Regions from separate parts of the Homo sapiens genome. Here all the other regions are reported to be linked to region 3. Evidence: microRNA targets listed by miRTarBase, many of them from high-throughput screens and not tested one by one. Region 3 holds a microRNA gene; each other region holds the end of a gene's coding sequence.

What was found. The annotated mature microRNA hsa-miR-6720-5p reads UUCCAGCCCUGGUAGGCGCCGCG and lies in region 3 at 3,232-3,254, opposite strand. An mRNA with a match to its seed (bases 2 to 7 or 8) in the 3' UTR can be bound and repressed. Matches are read on the target gene's strand: a 7mer-m8 pairs with bases 2 to 8, a 7mer-A1 pairs with bases 2 to 7 and ends in A, and an 8mer does both.
Region 1: the mRNA of TMEM170A is a reported target of hsa-miR-6720-5p. Seed matches in the 3' UTR shown: 7mer-m8 at 4,724-4,730, 7mer-m8 at 3,005-3,011 and 7mer-m8 at 2,637-2,643.
Region 2: miRTarBase lists PRMT7 as a target of hsa-miR-6720-5p. The part of its 3' UTR that is shown has no 7-base or 8-base seed match.

What each region holds. Positions count from the first base shown.
Region 1 is chr16:75,441,419-75,448,606 of GRCh38, forward strand. TMEM170A (transmembrane protein 170A) reads right to left here. Exons shown (of 3, transcript NM_145254.3): 3 at 1,636-6,270. The coding sequence ends at 6,140. Among named protein-coding and RNA genes, the nearest start is that of CFDP1, 12 kb to the left of the region's middle.
Region 2 is chr16:68,356,230-68,363,417 of GRCh38, forward strand. It overlaps PRMT7 (protein arginine methyltransferase 7), which reads left to right. Exons shown (of 19, transcript NM_019023.5): 18 at 472-568; 19 at 825-2,355. The coding sequence ends at 995. SMPD3 (sphingomyelin phosphodiesterase 3) reads right to left here. Exons shown (of 9, transcript NM_018667.4): 8 at 5,374-5,530; 9 at 2,098-5,078. The coding sequence ends at 4,977. Among named protein-coding and RNA genes, the nearest start is that of PRMT7, 49 kb to the left of the region's middle. RefSeq lists enhancers at 363-522, 6,339-7,151, 7,152-7,188.
Region 3 is chr6:1,387,128-1,394,315 of GRCh38, forward strand. MIR6720 (microRNA 6720) reads right to left here and starts at 3,284; the gene lies at 3,187-3,284. It overlaps FOXF2 (forkhead box F2), which reads left to right and starts at 2,449. Exons shown (of 2, transcript NM_001452.2): 1 at 2,449-3,991. The coding sequence starts at 2,821. It overlaps FOXF2-DT (FOXF2 divergent transcript), which reads right to left and starts at 2,334. Exons shown (of 3, transcript NR_187218.1): 1 at 1,892-2,334. RefSeq lists an enhancer at 3,631-4,496.

The DNA.
Region 1 (7,188 bases), not on the chromosome of region 3:
AGTATAGACAGGGTTTCTCCATGTTGGTCAGGCTGATCTGGAACTCCTGACCTCAGGTGATCTGCCCGCCTCGGGCTCCCGAAGTGCTGGGATTACAGGCATGAGCCACTGCACCCGGCCTAAGCACACTTTTCTTATGGGAGAGTAATAGAAAAATAGATGTAAAATTTGAACCCAGTATTTGGAAGTTGACCATTCTTGGCGTCATTTACCTTGGACAGCATAAATGGTGTCCTACAGCCACAAATCAGGATGTACCCTTTTGCCCTATCACTGGGGGTGAGTCTGGGGAACAGGAGCCACTGCGTTCTCTGGCAGACACTCCCCAGCACCCATTTCTCCTAGCACTCCATGTGATTGTTCAGATTTACAACTAGAGTTCCTGACCGCTTTAAGGGTAATCAGAGTGGGAATTACTTTCTAATAGTTGAGATGGAAAAAAAATTGGTGGTGAGCAGGCCAAATCCAGCTTAAAATCATGTATTGTAATGACTTAAAAGTGTTTTACGGCAAGGCGCACAATTACAGGTGGCTCGCGGCTGTAATTCCAGCACTTTGGGAAGCCAAGGTGGGCGGACCATTTGAGGTCAGGAGTTCGAGACCATCCTGGCCAACACCGTGAAACCTCGTCTCTACTAAAAATACAAAAATTAGCCAGGTTTGGGGGCGCACATCTGTAATCCCAGCTACTTGGGAGGCTGAGGCAGGAGAATCACTTGAACTTGGGAGGTGAAGATTGCAGTGAGCCAAGATCGCGCCACTATACTCCAGCCTGAGCAACAGAGCGAGACTGTGTCTCTAAATAAATAAATAAATAATAAAAGTGTTTTACGCAAGTTTAAATTAGTTGCTAACACTTAAAAATGGAGAGATTTCAAACAGTAACCTAGATTTCCAGCTTCTCTTGAAAATAAGTATCTGGCAAGATTGGGTTAATCATCGAATAAAGCAGAAACAGGCTGGAGCCAAGCAATAGCTGACTCCTTCGGACAGGGCTCTCCACTTGGCCACAGCACAAATCCCTCCAACTCCCTAAAGATTCCTGGTTCACTGTTCTGTTTTCTCGGTAATAATTTAGGGTGTCCTCCCTGCCGATCTCAGCACCTTTACTCCCAGATACATATACAGTCTTGGGGTCTTCTGTCTGAACTGTGTACGTATCTTTCCGGGGTGCTAGAAACATTCTGTCTCTTGATCTATTAGTCACATTAAGTATATATATATATATATATATATATATGTAAAATTCATTAAGCTATACATTTTAAGATTTGTACACTTTACTGCATGTTAAACCTCAACTTTAGAAAATTAGAAGGAATGAATGGGCAATCTCCTGCCAGACATTCTCTGTATGTGTCTGCAATGGCTGGAACTGCAGCAATCTTGTGACCATGAGGTAAACTACCCAACTTAGTCCCATTTGTTAAAAATGGCAGAACAGTGAGATTTATGATGTCACCAAGGGTATTAAATTAACCAAACACGACGAAGCTTCTCTTCATGTGGACTTACTATTAAAATAATACATTTTCACACACTGTATCAATACTCACCTATTCCTGCACAGAATCAAACAAAAGTTTCTTGATGGGAATATATGGCCCAGCAAGTAGAGTTAATAAGAATTTCAAGTTCACATGTTAAGTACGGTTTAATCACAACTTTGAACAAGAATTTTATCATAAATTAGTAAGAAGTAGAACATAAAAAAAGTTACACATGCTAGATATTAAGTTATTTAAAAAATGAAAACTGAAGTCAATTTTATTACAAAAGATTAAACTCATTAGCCACCAAAAAGAAATATAATTCCAACTCAGAATTGAAAGTAATTTTTTATTGATAAACATTTACACTAGAATTAGAAATGTCAGTAGAAAAATAAAATTTAAATAATTTTCTATTGTACAAAGATTTGATCATTTTGACTGTAGCAGTTAGTGAAATAACATAATATAAAAAGTTAAGCTGATCTGAGTCACAACCAGCCTTATAGAGTGCACAAAAAAGAAATGCAAGTACACGACATTTCTGCATATGGTCTGCTAATGGCACCGATGCTTCACATTCCAGGAAATGGTTACTTAGGGAAGGTTGATATGTGCTGCAGCATAATAGGAACTTAATTCAAACCAGAGCAACCAGAAAGGATACTGGAGGCAAAAGCCAAAATACAATTTAAAATCTTAAAAAAAATAAGGAACGGTTTAAAGGTAATTAATGAACTTTTCCTCACCTAGTGTAAACATTTCATAAGAAGTAATATTTTGTGGTCACAAAAAAAGCACAGATACCTCTTTTAGAATATTCATGATGCTCTTGTGTATGAACTTAAGTTTTCATGAAATGCTTTCACCTCAAAACCCCGTATTCAAGAATCAAGAAGGCCAAGCATGATGGCTCATGTCTATAGTCCCATCACGTTGGGAGGCCGAGGCGGGTGGATCACTTGAAGTCAGGAGTTTGAGACCAGCCTGTCCAACATAATCAAACCCTGTCTCTACTAAAAATACAAAAATTAGCTGGGCCTTGTGGCGGGTGCCAGTAATCCTAGCTACTCAGCGGCCAAGGCAGGACAATCACTTGAACCCAGGAAACGGAGGCTGCAGTGAGCTGAGACCATGCCACTGCACTCCAGCCTTGGAGACAGAGCAAGACTCCATTTCAAAAAAAAAAGAAAAAAAAATCAAGAAATCAGCTTTTATGGTCAGGAGGCTGCCTCCCTCCCTCTCTTGCATTTCTTTTTTTTTAAAAAACAAAGCAGAGGCCGGGTGTGGTGGCTCATGCCTGTAATCCCAGCACTTTGGGAGGTGGAGGCGGGTCAGGAGATTGAGACCATCCTGGCTAACACGGTGAAACCCCGTCTCTACTAAAAATACAAAAAATTAGCTGGGCATGGTGGTGGACGTCCGTAGTCCCAGCTACTCGGGAGGCTGAGGCAGGAGAATGGCGTGAACCCGGGAGGCAGAGCTTGCAGTGAGCCGAGATCATGCCACTGCACTCCAGCCTGGGCGACAGAGCAAGACTCCGTCTCAAAACAAAAAAACCAAAAAACCAAAGCACAGCTGGGGGAGGATATTTCTAAGAAATCAGTTTTTGGCAAAAATTCTCAAAACTATATAAGGTAAAATGTTCAACACAATTGCCAATATTCTTCCATCTGAGTGACCACCCCCAAATAATTCTATATTTGAGACATAAAAAAGAAAATCAAAGCTATTCCTTATGATTCAAATAGTCTTTCCCTGAAAACATTTCAAGCTACACCGCTCAAGCTATTTAAAATCTATATATATATATAGATTTATTCACTGGAGAATACTTCACCTACTGGGATGGATGAAACACTCAGTAATTTGAAGATACCTTTTATACGTTTAGTTTTTTAAAAGAGTAGATAACCAAAATATATCAAACAAGAAACAGAAACAAATACACCTTTCAAAATGCCCTAATTTTAAGTCTTAGCTCCAGTGAAAAATATCTAACATTTTAATCATGTATCAGTACTTCAAAAGTTACTGTTTAAGAGGAGGGGCCCACTAACTACTGGTCTATATGTTTAGTGTATGAAATTACATCCAAAGAATGCTTTAGGCAAGAACTCCTTCAAAAGACATTTTTCAGTAAGAGGCATCCTTCAGTAGAGATGATGGCAATCATTTCCCATAAGAAAAGTTACCAATTCCCCAGATTTCTTAAACTGAAGGGATACTTTTGAAAATCACAGCTCTTTAAACAAAAAACTAGAATTTTTACAATTTGCCTGTGAGAAAGATTTGAGCTTCTTGTTAGGGAATTTGTAAGAATATTTGGCTGCATTACAACTCTACTTATAAGTTTCTGCCCGTGTATATGTCACTATAGTTTTGATAAGTTAATTACCAAAATTAGTAATATTATTTTAAGACAGGGTCTTGCCCTGTGGCCTAAGCTGGAGTTCAGTGGCGTGGTCTCGGCTCACAGCAGCCTGAACCTCCCAGGCACAAGTGATCCTCCCACTTTAGCCTCTTGGGTAGCTGAGGCCACGCCCAGCTAATTTTTTTTTATTTTGTAGTAGAGACAAGGTCTCACTATGTTGCCCAGGCCAGTCTTGAACTCTTGGGCTCAAGCAATCCTCCCACATCGACCTCCCAAAGTGCTGGGATTATAGGTGTGAGCCACTGCGCCCAGCCATAAGTGGTCTAATTAGTCAAAAGAATATGTCCAGTTTTTGTGATCTCTTTGTAATTCTTTTCTATGAGTTTCCCTGGCAAATTGGTCCTCCTGACTTTTTTCTTTTTTTTTTTTTTCCAAATTGGGCAGACTCCAGAATCACAGTAGATTCAGAGACTCTCCTCCTGGCTATTTTTAATCAGAAGCCAGAGTGTGTATTGCTTTAAATGGAATAGATACGTTCATGTGTATATGACCTCATGGGCTGTTAAGCCTTAATCTCACAATGAAAACTTTCCTTTAAAGATGTCAGATTTATGGCCAGGCGCGGTGGCTCACGCCTGTAATCCCAGCACTTTGGGAGGCCGAGGCGGGTGGATCACAAGGTCAGGAGTTCAAGACCAGCCTGGGCAAGATGGTGAAACCTATCTCTACTAAAAATACAAAAATTAGCCGGGCACGGTGGCAGGTGCCTGTAATCCCAGCTACTCAGGAAACTGAGGCAGGAGAATCGCTTGAACCCGGGTGGCAGAGGTTGGAGTGAGCTGAGATTGCACCACTGCACTCCAGCCTGGGCAACACAGTGAGGCTCCGTCTCATTTAAAAGAAAAAAAAAAAAAAAAGTCAGATTTAATCACCAGAAACTATTTTGCAGATAACCACCACCACTACCACCACACTGATTGTATTCCATACAAAACAGTTTAGGTGGAAAGGATCACATTAAATACTTAATTTCTGCGATTCTTTCCCTCTCAAAGAGTCACAGTTTTCAGGCCTTTTAATGAAAAAGAAAGTTAGGCAGTAGAATAAAAATTTAAATAGCTAAAATTAAGTTTTAAAAAAACTCTTGATATTTAAATCTCTTTAAAGATATAAATTCTTTTGAATAAAAATGTAAAGGGGAGAGTGGGTACATATCTGAACATTAAACTTTAGGCACTTTCTGGGAGTTGATACCCAATACTGTAAAAGTGGGCTGAAGAGTTACCACTAGGTAAACACATTAAGCTAAAAAATCAATAACCACTAACTCTAGTTTCAGATGCACTTCTATAGTTTCTCAAGGGTCATTAGTATACCAAAGTCACTAAGAAAAACTATGACAGAATGCCTAAAGTATCTTATGTGTGCCTCAATGTCCAAACAAATCTGGCTTAAAATTTCCAACTCAAGCCATTTAATAGGGTATGTATGTTTCCAATTAAATGAAATAAAATTAAGAGAATTAAAAGTGATAGGGAAAGGTGGTACAGAAAATCTAAAAAGTCTAAATTAGCTAGCTTATTTTGATAAAACATACAAAATAACAAATTCACATCTCTTAAAATATCTTAATCAGAAGTCAAGACAGTTGTCCAGAAAATGTCACATTATTCATTGTTATCTACTTTTTATTTATAAACAGTGGAACCAAAGCCACTACTTGAGTTATACTTAAATTTTTTTTCCTGCTTTATTTCACCAAATTTGTTTTCAAAACTATACTCAACCAAAACCTATTTGGCATTTATTGTCACTAAGATGTAGCAAAGAAAAGAGTTTGCCAAATTTTAATCAAGATTAGATAAGATTTTAATACAACATACTCTGCTCATTTGAAATAAACCAGTATCTTCCACGGTTTCTTCAAAATATGCGACATCTCACAGAATACTGTAAATTTCAGTGCAAAGGATGCCACCCCAGAGACACTGTTGACTTGGCTTGGGTAAAGGTACACATGAAAACTGCTTAAATCAAATATCTACAAAAAAGAAAGCCAAAAGACTTGTTTTGGTTGAGAACAATAGGAGTCCACATAAGTCTTCAATTCTAGGAGCTTCAAAATGAAGAAAAGGCTGAGATGTGTTGTCCTTCATGTTCCTGTTCATCCAAGTTGCTTCCCTTTGAAGAACTAAGAAAACACTACACTCCATAATGTATTCTTTTGGAGGATTCCATAAAGTTTAAGTTCAACATCTCAGCATAAGGATGTATGCTATAGAGTAGCTAAAATCCGTAAAAAGGAGACCACCAAGACGCAAAATGTCTGTCCAGTGCCCAGTGTGAGGGCTTCAAATGGTATCATTTCCTTCCCTGCTGCTCGGTAAACTCCAGCAATAGCTGCACCTGATTTAAAATGCAAGAATGTTAAACAAAAACAAAAAACGAAGGTTAACAAACTCACGAAAATACAACATTTAAAATACTACTGCGAGTAGAATGTTCCAGATTTTATACTGAAATTTAAATCTTACAGAAATGTTAGGTTTTCCCTATTCTTTCTGTGGACTACTCTACACTTTGAGTATTCATTGCATGGCTTGCAAGATCACTTTTAGATGCTGACTCCTTAAAACCCAGAGTCTCCTAGATTTATTGAATAAAATAATCTGGAAGAAATAATCAAAATCACAAAGATAGCAATTCCCACATGACCAGATTATGAACTCAAAAATATCTGTATTCCCCTACCAGTTACCCCATGCCTAGCCTTCAACAGGGACCTAATACATTTTTGGTAACAAATGAAAAAGGATCTTTTGAGTTAGACTAAGCAAGAAATGTTTCAGGCCACAGGGAATCCCCACTCCACCTTCTATCACACTCATAGTTCCCTTCAAGAAATGGACGGAGGAGGGACTAGAGGGGTGAAAAGGGAAGACAGGAGGACTCTAAGCCATAAAGTTGTTATTCATTCACAGGGCATGAGAGGAGAGATACTCAGGGATTCCTTTGTCTCCCAAGTCATTGATTGTTTTTATTACGCTAGTCACTATAATTTCCTGCAAATTGGAAAAACAAAACGAAAACCCCTGTATCTATGCAGATACCCATTTGAGTTACTATACGAGTTCAGCATTATACCAAGGAAGTGTACCAAGAAAGTTAACATTTCATTCGTTTGAAAAGAATAGATCCGGCCGGGCACGGTGGCTCACGCCTGTAATCCCAGCACTTTGGGAGGCCGAGATGGGTGGATCATCTGAGCTCAGGAGTTTGAGACCAGCCTGGGCAACATGGTGAAACCCCATCTCTACTAAAAAT
Region 2 (7,188 bases), not on the chromosome of region 3:
GTGCTGCTTGCGTCCAGGGACGGGCAGCCCTGTCCTGCTCCGGCCCTCACCCCACCCTCGCCCGAGGAGTGACTTCTCCTGGAAGCACCTCCCAACTCGGGGCAGGCAGCCAGGCAGGGCGGGCGCCATCACCTGAGCTCCCAGGGTTGCTGTCTGGGGCATCAGAGGGGCCTTCCGGCCTTCAGTGCCAGGCTGTGCCTCAAGCTCCCCCAGACCCTGCAGCCACACCGGCCCTGCCCCATGTGTGGCCCGGCTGCAGGGCTCGGGTTGGCTCAGGTGGGGGCTTGGCTGCGGCTCTTCTGGCTGGGGTTTTTCTGAGGAACGTTTATGTAACTGCAGCACTAGGAACTCCCGGCAGGGCAGGAAGGAAGTGGGGAAGACCACAGGTTTCTGGAAAGCCGCAGGAGCTGCAGCTGTTCCCCCGCTGCCTCTTGTGTGACTACTTCTGCTGGGCCCCCCTCTCCTTGACAGGCCCGGGCAGAGCCACGCAGCGGTGCTATGGATGGAGTACCACCTGACCCCGGAGTGCACGCTCAGCACTGGCCTCCTGGAGCCTGCAGACCCCGAGGTAGTGCCTGCGCACCGGGCCCAGTGTGCGTGCAGACCCTGAGAGCAGGCGCCGCCTGGGGAGGCCTCCCTGCCCCCATGCTCTGGGTGTTTCTGTCACAAGTTCTTCGGGCCAGATGATGACCCCTCAGTGGTCCTGGGCCATCTGGCCCCTGAGCAGCTTCTCTCTGCTGCGAGCTGCCTGGGCTGGAGGCTGGCTAGGAAGGAGGCTCAGGTGCCAGGGAGCCCTCACCATCTTCCTGCTCTTCTTCCTACAGGGGGGCTGCTGCTGGAACCCCCACTGCAAGCAGGCCGTCTACTTCTTCAGCCCTGCCCCAGATCCCAGAGCACTGCTGGGTGGCCCACGGACTGTCAGCTATGCAGTGGAGTTTCACCCCGACACAGGCGACATCATCATGGAGTTCAGGCATGCAGATACCCCAGACTGACCACTCTTGAGCAATAAAGTGGCCTGAGGGCTGGGGTTCTGAGTGGCTCATGGCTTTCTAGCGGGGAAGGCTGAAGGCCCTCCTCTCCTCTCTGGGAGCTGCTCGGCCTCAGGGATGGGAAAGACTGCGCCGTGTTGCATCTTGTTGCATCTTTGCACTGCTGGCCTCTGGCTCCAGCTGTGGCAGGAAGCATGAGAGGGTGACTGAATTTGGAGCCCTGGAGGGGCTGGGAAGACCCCCCTGCTTGTGCTTCTGAGGTGCTGAGAATGCTCCAACACAGAGACATCTCTCCCCAGCTGGGAAGGGAGTGGAAGCACAGGGAGCTTGTGGGGCTGGCCGGTGGGGTTGTCCACGCCGCCCTTGGCGAGCAGTCCCCGTGGCGGGAGCCTGTCCTGTCTGTCTCACTCTCGAGGATCTCCGGGTCCCTGCTCTTCTGGCTTCTGCTAGGAGGGTGGAGATGCTGAGTTGTGGCTGGGTCTCTGGGGCTTGAAGACCCTGGCTGGGCCCGGGCTGAGAGGCCTGGGTTCTGGCCCTTTCACCTGACAGGTAACTTCAAGCCACATCCATAGGTGTCTGGCCTCAGTGCTGCACCAGCTGGTGGCCTGCCAGGACCTGAGACTGGACACAAGGCAGCTGTCCCAGAGCAGTTCCTGAGATGCAGGCCCAGGAAAGTGGCTGTCAGGGGAGCTGGGAGGCAGCCCTGTTCCCTGCACCTCCCTCAGATTGGAAAGCCCCTCCTGCAGGTGGGGTATGGCAGGGAGCAGCCCCTGCCCAGCGCCGCTTCACCAGGAAGGTCAGTAGGTGCCGTGGCCTTGCTTCTCTCACACACTAACCCCCCTTTGGTTATGTCCCAGCTCTCAGAGGTAACAGCAGACACCACGTGAGAGAACCCAGTGGCCTCTGGCTCGCAGCTTAGAAGGTGAGGCTTGTGCCAGGCCAGCCGAGCCGCCTGTATGAGCAGAGTTCCGGTGTCCTCGGATTCAGGGCAGACTTGGGCAGTGCCTGTCCTGCAGTTGGGGGCAGGAACTCCCTCCCCTGCCCCCAGGCGTGCCCCTGAGGCCTGGCCCCAGCTTGTCGCTGAAATAAGTGGAGAACACCAGCCTTGAGCCTCACAGTTTTATTTTCTCCTCGTTATCCATCCTTCCTTTCAGCACCAGTAAGGAAAAAGAACACCTCTCTTCGCAAAATATTTTATCAGGTGTAAAGACTTGTTTTTCTTCTAGGGAAGAACCGTCTGGATATATATTTGATAATGTTTTTACCAAAACCATAGGTGTGCTTACCATAGAAAACCCCTAATGTCCCATGAAGATACAATACAGAAAAAAATACAGAAATTAAAAAAGTTTTTATAACAGTATTTCTAAATCTCAGCAAGTTAAAAAGCAATAGTTAAAAAGCATCAAGATTAATATACTTAAAACTTAAGGTGGTTTTGGACAAATGAAAATGAACATTTCCTTCCTCAGTGGCCCCCGCGCCTTGTGGCTTCCTTTGAGACTGGGCCTAGGGCAGGAACAGAGTCTTGGTATGGGCCTCGGGTGACCCGTGTGCCCACCCCTGCTAGGCCTTAGATGCCACAGAATCTGAGATCCAGCAATGGTTCACTTTAAAAAATCAGTGGAAGGGCCTGGCCTGCACACAAGGCCCGGGAGTCCATAGGCAGCCACAATGAGACACGTGGGTGGGGGGGTCCCGGTCTTGGTGCTGAGGGAGGTGTGCGGGGGCCTGGGGGCCGCACATCCTTACTCTGGACCCCAGGACCTGACTAGGCAGAGGCGACCTTGTGATGACAGAAAATGACTTGCCTAAGGCCGCCTGTGAGGTGGGAGGGGAGGAGCATGCAGCCCTGACTCCCACGCCTGCTGCCCCGGGAGGGGGTGCCTGGGTGGGGAAGCTATGTTGGGGTCTGGTGTGGGGGCCCTGCCCGGGCCTCAACTGCTCTCCCTGTGCAGGCAGTCGGCAGGCGGCTCGGGGTCTAGGGGTCCAGGGCCGGCCGGCCCAGTCGCTTGTGTGAGCAGAGTACCAGCTGCTTCTGGAAGTTGGGGGCCTCCACATCATGAATCCCAGTCAAGGCTCACAGGCCAGCCCCTTGGAGGGGTGGGCCGGGCAGAGAGCCCAGCAGGATGCTCGCCCTCAGCAGCCCCTTCCTGGCTCTGGACTCTGGAGGGGCAGGGCTTGGGCCCGGGCAGACGGTGCTTCCCAGGCCAGGTGAGTTCAGACAGGCCAGTGTCACAAGGACGCACGTCCTAGCGCCAGGCTCCCTGGGCTCTGCAGCGTTGTCTGCCCCAGCACAGGGCCAGGCATCTGGCTGGCTGCGTGGCCCCCTCTTGGTCCCTCTTGCAGCTCAATGGGTGACAAGGCACAGCATCAGGGCACCAGCACCAGGAGGGGCTGACAGCAGACAGCAGGTCCTGGTGCTCCCTCCAGCCTCACCAGGCAAAGCCGGCCCTGGGCCAGGCTGGGTGTAGGGCCAGGGCGCCACGAGGAGCGGAGGTCAGCGGGGATTGTCAAAAACAGTCCCTCAAGTTGAGTCTCGAACTTTGAAACAGACAAAACCTTCGCTGCATGACAGGAGCAGCCCTGGAGTCTCTTAAAGGCAGGTGGGCAGAGGCAGTGCTGCCGAAGGGGCCTGGGGGCTGTAGGCATCTTGGGGCTGGAGGCAGATCGGGGACCACAAGCTGTTGGCCAGCTCTGCCATGCTGAACTTGGGTGCCAGTACCACACCCTGCCCTGGGCATGCAGCAACTGTCAGCCTTGCTGCCCCAGCTTGCGCACTGGTGAGGGCCAGGCTGCTCTCTGCACCTTGGCTTCCTGCCTCCTAGGCCGGGGTCCCCTTGTGGCCTTGGTGTTGGCTGGGGTAGCTGTTGAGGATGGGCCTGGGAGGCCAGAGCCGCAGCCCCACCCGGGGGGCAGGCAGGGGTTCCTGAGCTCAGCCGGCACGCAGGTGGGGCACGTCCCCAGGGAGGGATTGGTCCCGAACCAGAGAGGTGTCCCGTGGGGGAGAGGATTGGCAGAAAGAAGAGGATGTGTTGGTTTTGATAGAAGAGAAGCTACAAATAGATTATTTTCAAAATCAGGATCCCCCCCACCCCCGTTTATGCTGTGAGTCCCTTCTTCCTGTAAAAAAAAAAGTGGATACTCTCTTCTCGGATCCCCGTTTATGGCTCCACTGCCCAGATGGGAGGCTCCCGGAGGAGGCCCAGGGTGCCAGAGCCTGCCAGACTCTGTTGTGCCTGAGCTGGGGAAGGGACCCTGTCTCGGGAAGAGCAAAGTTCTATGAGTGACTTACAGACCCTGTGAAGTGAGGGTTGGTTTTGTGATTAACCTTTTTCTGTTTTTCTTTTTAAAATGTAATTGCCCTTGAATGCGAGACCCTGGGAAGAGCCCTGGGCTGGCTGGTAGAGATGCAGCCCTCGGACCCTGCAGGAGCCGGCCCACACTGGAGGCGGGAGAGCTGGTGGCCGTGCCCAGGAAGTGCTTCTTTGGCTGGTTCTGATTGTGTTTGGAGTTTGGCCTTGGGTGAGGCCCGAGCAAGGGGTCTGTGGCTACAGCGTGGCACGTGGCATGCGGGCAGCGTGCATGCGAGGGTGCAGGCATGCGAGACGACATTGGCAGCAGACAAAAATAAAGAACCCTGGACGAAGCTTAAGAGGAGATACAGAGAGTACACGAACCCGGTCCTCATACTAACCCACGGGTTACAAACTCGGTTGTGCTGTAGATTTGTAGAAAATCGTGTTGTGAAAGAATGGCACTGGTTAGGCAGCTGGAGGCTCCTGGGGCGGGCCTGACTCCTCTGTCCACAGTGAGGCCCAGAGGCGCAGAGCAGCGCAGCTTCCAGGTTCCCGGGCACTGACTGTGGCTCCCTCCCTGTCCCTGCCCTCCTCCCCCAAGCACCGGGCACTCGATGGAGGGGACATGGCCCAGGGATGGGCTGCAGCTGCAAGGGCTGGCAGAGGCCCCGCTGCTCCGGACGGTCTATGCCTCCTCCTCCCCCGAAGACACCATCAGTCGCATGGCTACTGGCAGGTGGTCCGTCAGGCCGGACAGCTGGGTGATAAAACTGAATTCTTCCACCTCCTGGGGTGAGTGGGAGAGGGGAGAAACAGCCTGGTCAGATTCCAAGGGCATCTTGCAGGGAGCGGCCTGGGGATCCCCAAAGTGAGGCCCCGGGGCTGGGGTGGGCTGGGACCTTCCTGCAGTCAGAGGGATGGGGCCTGGAGGACCTGGGGCCCTAAGGGTCTGAGGGAGTGATGGGTATCATTGTAAGAGTGGCCTGGGGCGTGGGGTTTCAGGGAGCGGCTGTCGAGAGCTGCAGGGCCCGGGCCCTGCTCTCTCTTTGCATGGCCCTGGCTGCTGGGCCCTCCTGACTCACGGCCTTCCAGTCTGGGCACAGCCCCTCCTCTGCATGCAGCATGTAGTCGATGCGCCGGCCGTTGCCCTTCAGCAGCTCCTTCCGCCCCTTCTGGCCCGAGCTCTTGCTGGTGGGAAACGCCAGGTACTCCCTGCGGCCCTCCTCACTCTCCAGGACCCTGTCCACACATGCAGGAGGCAGGTGGGCCCCCATGCCCGCCCCTGTGGGCCTGGCAGGGGCTGTGTGTGGAGCCATGGTCTCCTCCCAGTGTGGGAGCGGGTGGGTGGGACCAAAGCGCTGGGTTTAAGATCTCTCCCCTGCGGGTCCAAAAAGGGCCTCAGCTGGGGGTAGGCCGAGTTGCCTGTGGGTTCCTGGCTGAATCTGGGCTCCGGAGCCCGTCGAAGTGTTCTGTCCGCCCCAGCCTGGCCAGCACTCACTTTCCCTTTCTGAACTCGGACAGAACTGATCCCACCCGTTCCCCAGAATGGGCTTCTGCCCTGAGCCAACAGGGGCCTGTTTTGAGGAGCTTGGTCTTTGCCATGAGTCTCGGGGACCCTTGTGACTGTTCCCAGGTTGACAGGAGCTGAGGGAGCCAGGAGAGCACCTCTGAGGAGTCTCAAATGGGGCTGTCCCTACGTGGCTGTGTGACTCTGCTTATGTTACCAAGCCTCCAAGCCTCTGTTTCCTCCTCTGAAACAAGAATGGTTGCTGTGGGCCCCAAGACGCTTCAGGGAACAGGCTGTCATCCCGCTTCTGAGTGAGGAAACCCATGATGGTGCTAGGGGATCCACAGGGAGGGCAGGGCGCTGGAGCAGGGGGATGTGACATCTGGAATCCCTTTCTGGCACTGTTGCCCTGAGACAAGCAGTATGCCCGTCTGCTTCCTGCCAGCCTGTCCCCTGGGGCCTCAGCACCACTGGGCCAGAGGCTTAGGACCCCCTCCTGGGAGCCCCCATTGCAGAGGGCAGGCTGGGGCCAGGGCCTGGGATGGCAAGTGCAGTGGTGAGAGACCCTGCAAAGGCCGCCAGGTCTGTGAGTGCCTGGACGGATGCAAAAGGGGCACCCGGCGAGGCAGGGCCTGCAAACATGGGCTTCCACAAGGTTTTCATCAGCCTTAAGATAAATACACTAATGACATTCAGGACATTGTTACAGCTCAGAAATGGAATCCATCACTGTCCTTTGCCCTTGATAATTAATTCCAGCATCAATGATCTGAGAGCTACTGGTAGTCATTTTTAAATCATCATCTCATAAAAAGAATTTTCTCAGCATAGGATGATGTTTCAAATTTAGTCTATAATCTAATTAATTGGCTCAAATTAGCTGCAAGGAACCATCGCTGTGACTGCAGTCTCGGGCTGTGAATTATAAATTGGTTCTGCTGTTGGCCTCTCAGATGTGTTCTTTATGGACATCTTACTGGGCTCAAGAATGAATTTTGGCTGGGATGGAACTGTCTCTACTTTGAAAATGGTCGGCTGTGTTATTGCAGCTGGTGTCTGTATTTGCCTGATTGGTGCTGCAAGCTGCCAGGCTGCCTTCAGCAGGCGCCGTACCCAGCAGCTCTTTCATGGGGGTCGACCTGTGGCCTGGCCCGGGGGAAATTCCAGGCCCTTTCCTGTACCCAGCAGGCAGGGGCTCGGGGCAGGGCTAGCTCCTGAAAACAGGTTTGGGAAATACCCCTAGAGATTTAGCAAGGCCAGTACCCCTGGGCGTGAGGGCGTGAGGTCTACCTGCCTGGCCCAGCTCCCAGCTCTCAAAAGCTCTCAAAGGTGAGATGAGGGACAGGTTTCTGCCAAATAAAAGCCCTCATGAGCCCGAGCTGAGCTCTCC
Region 3 (7,188 bases):
TTTAAGGCCTGCTCTTAACAAGTTGGATCTGTATTCCCTGAGATCCAAATACATATAATTTTCAGGCACAGAGAATCAGAGAGAGTCCATGGCTAAGTGACAATGAGTACTGAATGTTTCCAAAGCCCGTTGCCCACCGCCCCCACCTACAAATGAGATAATTGTCCTTTTCCCCCACAAGCTTCTCCCCTGGGCTCTTTCCATTTAAAGCACACACACACACACACACACACACACACACACACTGAACTCTATGTCAGTAGAGCTCCTTTAAGATCCTATCTGTCCTCCCCACTCCAGCTTCTATTTTATGAAAATAATTATATTTTAGGCACTTAGAGCATTGGTTTAGTGAACACATTATATTTACTTTCATATTTAGTTATGTATTTTTAAGTTATTCCACACAAAATGACAAATGAGGGCAAGAGAAAAAAATACCATGAAATATATGGGGACGCACCCCCCAAAAACGCTCAGCAGTCAGTCAGAAATTCTTAGAAAGTGGAAACAACTGCGAAGCCCTACCCCAACCCAATCAAAACATCCCACCCGGAAAAGAGCGACTTGTTTCTTTTTTCTATTGGAAATGAGTGGTAAACTGAGTTCGGTTTGGCGGTGTTTTCTTAGCTGACTCTCGGCTACAATCAAGCCATTTTCGGACACATTCCCATGTAGGTACCAGGGGTGCTCTGGAGGAAGCTGTCGACGCCTGTTCAGCTAATTTAGGTTTTCTTTGTCTAATTACTGTGGAGCTTAGGGAGAAGGAGCCGGCTCAGGGCAGTAAACTGACACTCGGTCTCTGTGTGTGGTATCCAGGCAGGGTTTGATGGAAAAAGCCTGCTTCCACTCAACCTCAGGTCACTGTCTGGGGCCAGCCCCGGCCCACCCCCCTCCCACATACCCCTCCCCTCCCCACCCGCCCTCTCTGCATCTACAGCCCCACCAGCACACTCAGCCAGGAGCAGTCCCCCGGCACTCCAGGGGCACACAGGGCTCCTGCCGCCCCAGGGGGCCTGCCTAGGCTGTGCGGCTGTGAAGGCTCTTTGCCTGGTGTCTTCCTCCTGATTACTGCACAACCTCCCTTTCTCCTGCCTCCTGCAACTCCCCAGGCTCCCCAGCAGGCACACCCGTGCACCTCGGTCCTTTCAGCCTAGACGCAGCGGGGTGCCCAGCTCTACCTCCTGTTTGGTCCGCTGGTCTGCAGCACCTTCTTTCTGGGCCTCCCCCTTCAGCCCTTGGGAGGCCCCGCCAGCTCCGGCCTCCTGCTCTCCTCCTCCCTCTCCCAGCTCCTATCCCTGGTCGGACTACATTTCCCTGCACGTGTAATCCAATAACTAACTGTCGGGTCTCATTGGAAGTGATTGCTCCCGAGGGCACATCTCTCTCAGAGCCTGACTCTTACTTAGGGAGGAATTAGCCACAACTGGGGAGAAGTGTTCTCGGACAGGAGTTAGCTGAGACCTGGCACAGTTTTGGGTGGGCAATGTTAAGACGGAGGATGTAAACCTAGTGACAGCTGCACACCCCTTCAGGACTGACTATAAATATAGCCATCTCGCTTATCTCAGGGTCTTTCTTTTTCTTTCTCTTTCTTTCTTTTCTTCCTTCCTTCCTTTTTCTTTTGCACTTTTTTCTTACAGAACACTAACTGGGGTGCGGGGGTGGGGGGAAGAAGTGGAAGCAAATGCAACCCTAAGTCCCATGAGATCCAGGTTTCCAGAGTCTTTGAAACTTGGCCTAGGTTTCTCAGTGTAAATCCCTCTGCTCAAAGTTCCGAAAACGTCCACGATCGCCAGCGGCCCGCAACCCTGCGGCGGCCCCCAGTCGCCCTAACAATTGTCGGGGAGCCTGCAGGCCCTGCCAGAAAGAGAGAGGATTGGCACGTTACCTTTGGGCGTCTGGCACCCCGGCGTGTGGCTGAGGGCGGCAAAGTCTAAACGAAGTTGACAGATGGAGTCAGTATCGGCCCTGGGGAGGGCGGCCAGGGAGGCTCCGAGCAGCCGCACCCGCAGCAGCACCACTCGGCCCGGCGGGCCAGGAGGAGGAAGGGGGCGCGGAGGGGCGGGGCTGGGTCCTGGGATGGGACGCGGGGCTTGCTGCGGGGGGCAAACAGAAAGAATATTTCATGAAGTCAGAGGTGGTCGAGTTTTGCGAGGGGTGGGGGTCGTCCCCCTGGCAGAACCGGAGTGAGTCTGTGATCCCTCAATTGGAAAGAGGGTGAGTGAGGGAAAGGGGAGGAGGCCGCGAGAGGAATGAAGAGCGAGGAGACCCTGGAGAGCGGGGAGCGAGATAAGAGAGGGAGGCGGCCGCCAGGTCGGGAGGGGGAGGAGTGAGCGCGGCGGCGCGGAGCGAGGAGGGGGCAGGGCGGGGTGGGGGGGGAGGGAGGGAGGGAGGGAGCGAGGAGGGCGGCCGGGGAGGGCGAGGGAGGGAGGAAGTCCGAGAGACAGAGCGAGGAGCGCTCCTGAAGGGAGACGTCGGGCTCGTCCCCGGGGTCCAGGCCGCGGTCCCACTCGCGGGCGCAGTCGCCCGGCGCCGGCCGCTCGGCCCCGCGGCCTGGGAGGCCGTTGCGCAAGGCAGGGCCCGCGGCTCGGGGAGGGATGCGCCGGGCGTTGCCTCCCGCCCGCCGCCGCCGCCGCCGCCAGAAGCCCCAGAGGAGCTGAGGGAGGCGACGCCGAAGCGCTGGCCCGGAGTGGCCACGGCTGCAGCCCGGGCGGCGGGCTAGGGCGCTCGCAGGGCTTCTGGGCCGACCCCGCTCCGGCGCCTCCGCTTCCCGCCCGGGGCCCGCCCTCGCGGCCCGGCCTCGCTCCCGGGTCCCAGATGACCACCGAGGGCGGGCCGCCGCCGGCCCCGCTCCGCCGCGCGTGCAGCCCGGTCCCCGGCGCGCTCCAGGCCGCCCTGATGAGCCCGCCGCCCGCCGCCGCCGCCGCCGCCGCCGCCGCCCCGGAGACCACCTCCTCCTCCTCGTCGTCGTCCTCCGCCTCCTGCGCCTCGTCCTCGTCCTCCTCCAATTCGGCCAGCGCCCCCTCGGCTGCCTGCAAGAGCGCGGGCGGCGGCGGCGCGGGCGCCGGGAGCGGGGGCGCCAAGAAGGCGAGCTCGGGGCTGCGGCGGCCCGAGAAGCCGCCCTACTCGTACATCGCGCTCATCGTCATGGCCATCCAGAGCTCGCCCAGCAAGCGCCTGACGCTCAGCGAGATCTACCAGTTCCTGCAGGCGCGCTTCCCCTTCTTCCGCGGCGCCTACCAGGGCTGGAAGAACTCGGTGCGCCACAATCTCTCGCTCAACGAGTGCTTCATCAAGCTGCCTAAGGGCCTCGGGCGGCCCGGCAAGGGCCACTACTGGACCATCGACCCGGCCAGCGAGTTCATGTTCGAGGAGGGCTCGTTCCGCCGCCGGCCGCGCGGCTTCAGGCGGAAGTGCCAGGCGCTCAAGCCCATGTACCACCGCGTGGTGAGCGGCTTGGGCTTCGGGGCGTCGCTGCTGCCCCAGGGCTTCGACTTCCAGGCGCCCCCGTCGGCGCCGCTCGGCTGCCACAGCCAGGGCGGCTACGGCGGCCTCGACATGATGCCCGCGGGCTACGACGCCGGCGCGGGCGCCCCCAGCCACGCGCACCCTCACCACCACCACCACCACCACGTCCCGCACATGTCGCCCAACCCGGGTTCCACCTACATGGCCAGCTGCCCGGTGCCCGCGGGACCCGGGGGCGTCGGTGCGGCCGGGGGCGGCGGCGGCGGCGACTACGGGCCGGACAGCAGCAGCAGCCCGGTACCCTCGTCCCCGGCCATGGCGAGCGCCATCGAATGCCACTCGCCCTACACGAGCCCTGCGGCGCACTGGAGCTCGCCTGGCGCCTCGCCTTACCTCAAGCAGCCGCCTGCCCTGACGCCCAGCAGCAACCCCGCCGCCTCGGCAGGCCTGCACTCCAGCATGTCCTCCTACTCGCTGGAGCAGAGCTACTTGCACCAGAACGCTCGCGAGGACCTCTCAGGTAACGCAGCACGCTCCAGCCCAGCCAGCTGGGCGCACCGCTTCTAGGCCTCCAGGGCTGGCGGCCACTGCCACTCCCACAAACAGGGACCCCGAAGCTAGGAGGTCTGAGGGCACTGGGAAAAGCAGATGCTGGGGAAAGCCGGCATCTTATTCGTGGGAGCAGGGATCAGGGTCTTACTGTCCTCCCAGTATCCCTGGCCAGCAGCCGAAGCTTCAGAATTGTCTGGCTGCTGTGAGCGTGGTGTAAAGTCCCCTGCCTTCCTGGGCTCTTTGGGGATCCCTGTGCAGGAGACTGCAGGTCTCCCGTTCAGAGTCTCACTTAGCTTGGAGAGAAGGCATCTGGCCTTTGGGGAACTTGGTCAGGAAGCTGTGTCTAGTTCCTTTTGTCCCTTTTTTTCCTTGCGTTCATTTTGCTGTACTTCTGTCCCGAAGTAAATGTCAGAATCAGATATGTTCTGTATGTTGGGGTGTCTGCAGCGAGATGTTTGCAGCTGGGCAAGTGTTAAGAGGAGGGGGTGGGAGGGACAGAGCTGGATCCCAGGATCTTTCACTAAAGGGACATTTGCCAGTGGAGGGGGTCACCAAACTGTTGGAGACTCCTCCCCTTCCCTGCCTCCCCCCCCGCCCAACAATGGACCCACATTGATGATACAGGTCCTGGGTGGCAGGACCTGAAGGACCCTGCTAGGACTCCCCTGAGAAATGCGCCTGCCCTGTGGATGCCACTTGTAGTGTGGCTGGTTTACATTGTTCTGGTTGCAGATTATGAAAAATTATTGACTTGCTGAAGGCGGTGAAAGGTGGGAGGGGACGGTAGGGATGGAAGAGGGAATTTGAATATTTGACCAGGTTAATGTGAAGAACAGAGATAAACCCTTACATTAACCCCTCGCTCGGAGCACCTAGGGCTGCAGATTAAAATCCCATGGGCCTGCCAGTCAAAGGCAAGGCCCCAAGCTACTCTCTCACACTGGCCTCCCACAGCAATGAGACAGTGGCTTGGAGGGTGATGCATGCTTTATGTGTTCCTGAGCCGGTGTGCAGCGGGAGCACCCGGGGAGAAGGAAAGCCCAGAAATGGGCAAAAGATGTTGGTTCCCTGGACGGTGAAATTTCCCAAATAGGCCTTTTAAATGTGGGTCTCAGAGGTTAACCAAACAAAGACAGTCTCGGCAGGACCACACCGGAGAGGATTTTAGCCTGACTTAACCCACTGAGAACAGAGTCTTGTTCAATTTTATGGGAATTTCAACAAGTAACCAATACAGGCGGCCTTCCCCTCTTATTTTTGTATTCCCTTGGACCGGCTGTCAATCACACACACACACACACACACACACACACACACACACACACACCCCTCGGTGCACTGGCCCCTTCCCTTCCCCGCCTGCCTGCTCCTCTCCCAGCCTGCCAGCTGCCCTCCCTGCTCCCCTTCTTCTCCTCTCCCGGCAGATCCACTCAACTTGAACCCGGACTCTGAGGCTTAGCAGCCTTGGAGAAACCGTACTCTAGGAAGAAAAAAAAGCACACAGGAAAGAGACTCCTGACCCTTCCTCAAGGCTGCTCTCGCCCCACCTCATAACACTGGGCGCAGGCACAAGCTCCCAAAACTTCGGAATCTGGATACATTACTGTCTTGGAGGGGGTGAAAACTGCCCAGCAAAGCAAGCCGGCCTCTGTGCCCCTACCCAGCGGCCTCCCGCGGCCGGCCTTCCCTGGGAGCCTCGCAGAACCCCCGACCGAGTCTGGGAACGCCCGGGGGAGACAATAGCTCGGGCCTGACGCCCGACAGGGACCCTCTGCCCTTCCTTCCTCGCTGTCTTGCTCCCGTCCCTATAGGATACCCACCCGGCCCTGTTGCCATCTCCCTGGAGCGCCAGCGGTGGAGGCTTCGGAGGAGCCGGCCGGATGCACCGGGACCCCGCGGGGCCTAGTTGGGAGCGCGCCGCCCACTGAGGCCTGGGGGCCCGGCGAGGCGCGGGGGTGGCCAAGGCAGTCTCCCCGGCACACAGATCAGCACATGTCTACGCGCACACACCCAGCACGACCCTCCCTCCCCCAGCACACCCCAAGGGCCGCGCCCTCCGCTCCTGGGCCTGGTGGCCATGGTCCATGTGCCCCTGCCGGCGCAGGGGCTGCCCTGGAGTTCTCCATTAAGCCCTGCGAGCACTTCAGGAAGGAGCTCGGGCTTCTGTCATCCCGCTCAGCACATCAAAGCGCCGACGGCCGCCTTCGTGGGCAGGTGTGAGCGCTCGCCCTCTCTCCTCCCGAGCCTGCTATTTTGTGGTCCAGGACTTGCCATCAGAACTTGCTTTAACGCGACGAGGGAACTCACCTGTGTGCAGAGCGCCGCGCACACATCGGGGCTCGCGGGACAGGGCAGCTGCGTTAGCGCAGCGCCGGGTGTGTTCGGGTAGGTGTTGCGGGCAAGGAAGTAGGCAGCGGCCCCTGAGCAGCCGCCTCGCTCCGGCATTGCGGGGACACGGCGGGGCTGAGGCCACGAGAGCAGGGCCCGAGCCCGGCGGGCCGTGGTTACGGTTTTCTTGCACTGAAAAACTGAATCCGGCCCGAAGCGACGTGCACTTTATGGTCCCCACACCACTCGGTTAACTAAGAAAAGACCCGGGCGAATGGACCTAACGCAGCCCGGTGCCGAGAGGGCCCGGTCCAGCAGCCTCTGGGGCCCAGTGCGCAGGGCACTGCGGGCCGATTGCGCCCCGGGGCCAGGAGGCGCCGAGAAAGCAAAAGCAAAAGCCGGCGGCGGGTGGAGGTCAAGCGGCCCGGTGCAGGCCGGGGACCGGGGAGCCGCCCCGGGAGAGCAGGGTCCAGGCCTTCTCTGTCCCCCTCCAGCCTGGGGCTACCTCAGGGACTCCTCGCGCTGCCAGATGCTTCGGACCAAAGGGCATTTCTCTGCGCCCTGAAGTCCCGGCTTCTCTAGAGGAAGTCTAAGACGTTCGGGACCCACGAAGATGCCTGCGGAGGGGCAGGAGAAGAGGCGTGCTTTTCTGCCCCATCCCTTCATCTTGCGATTGGGTTGTTTTCTATCGTCCCCTTTGGCACAGGGAGTCCTCTGCGCTCGCTGCTGTGACCGGCCCAGTTAGTTGGGAAACAAGGCTCAGAAAGAAGGCCGCAGTGGTGTTTCTGGGGTAGGGTGCTTGGCCCTCCCTGAAGCCAGGGCTCAGGGCAGCACAGG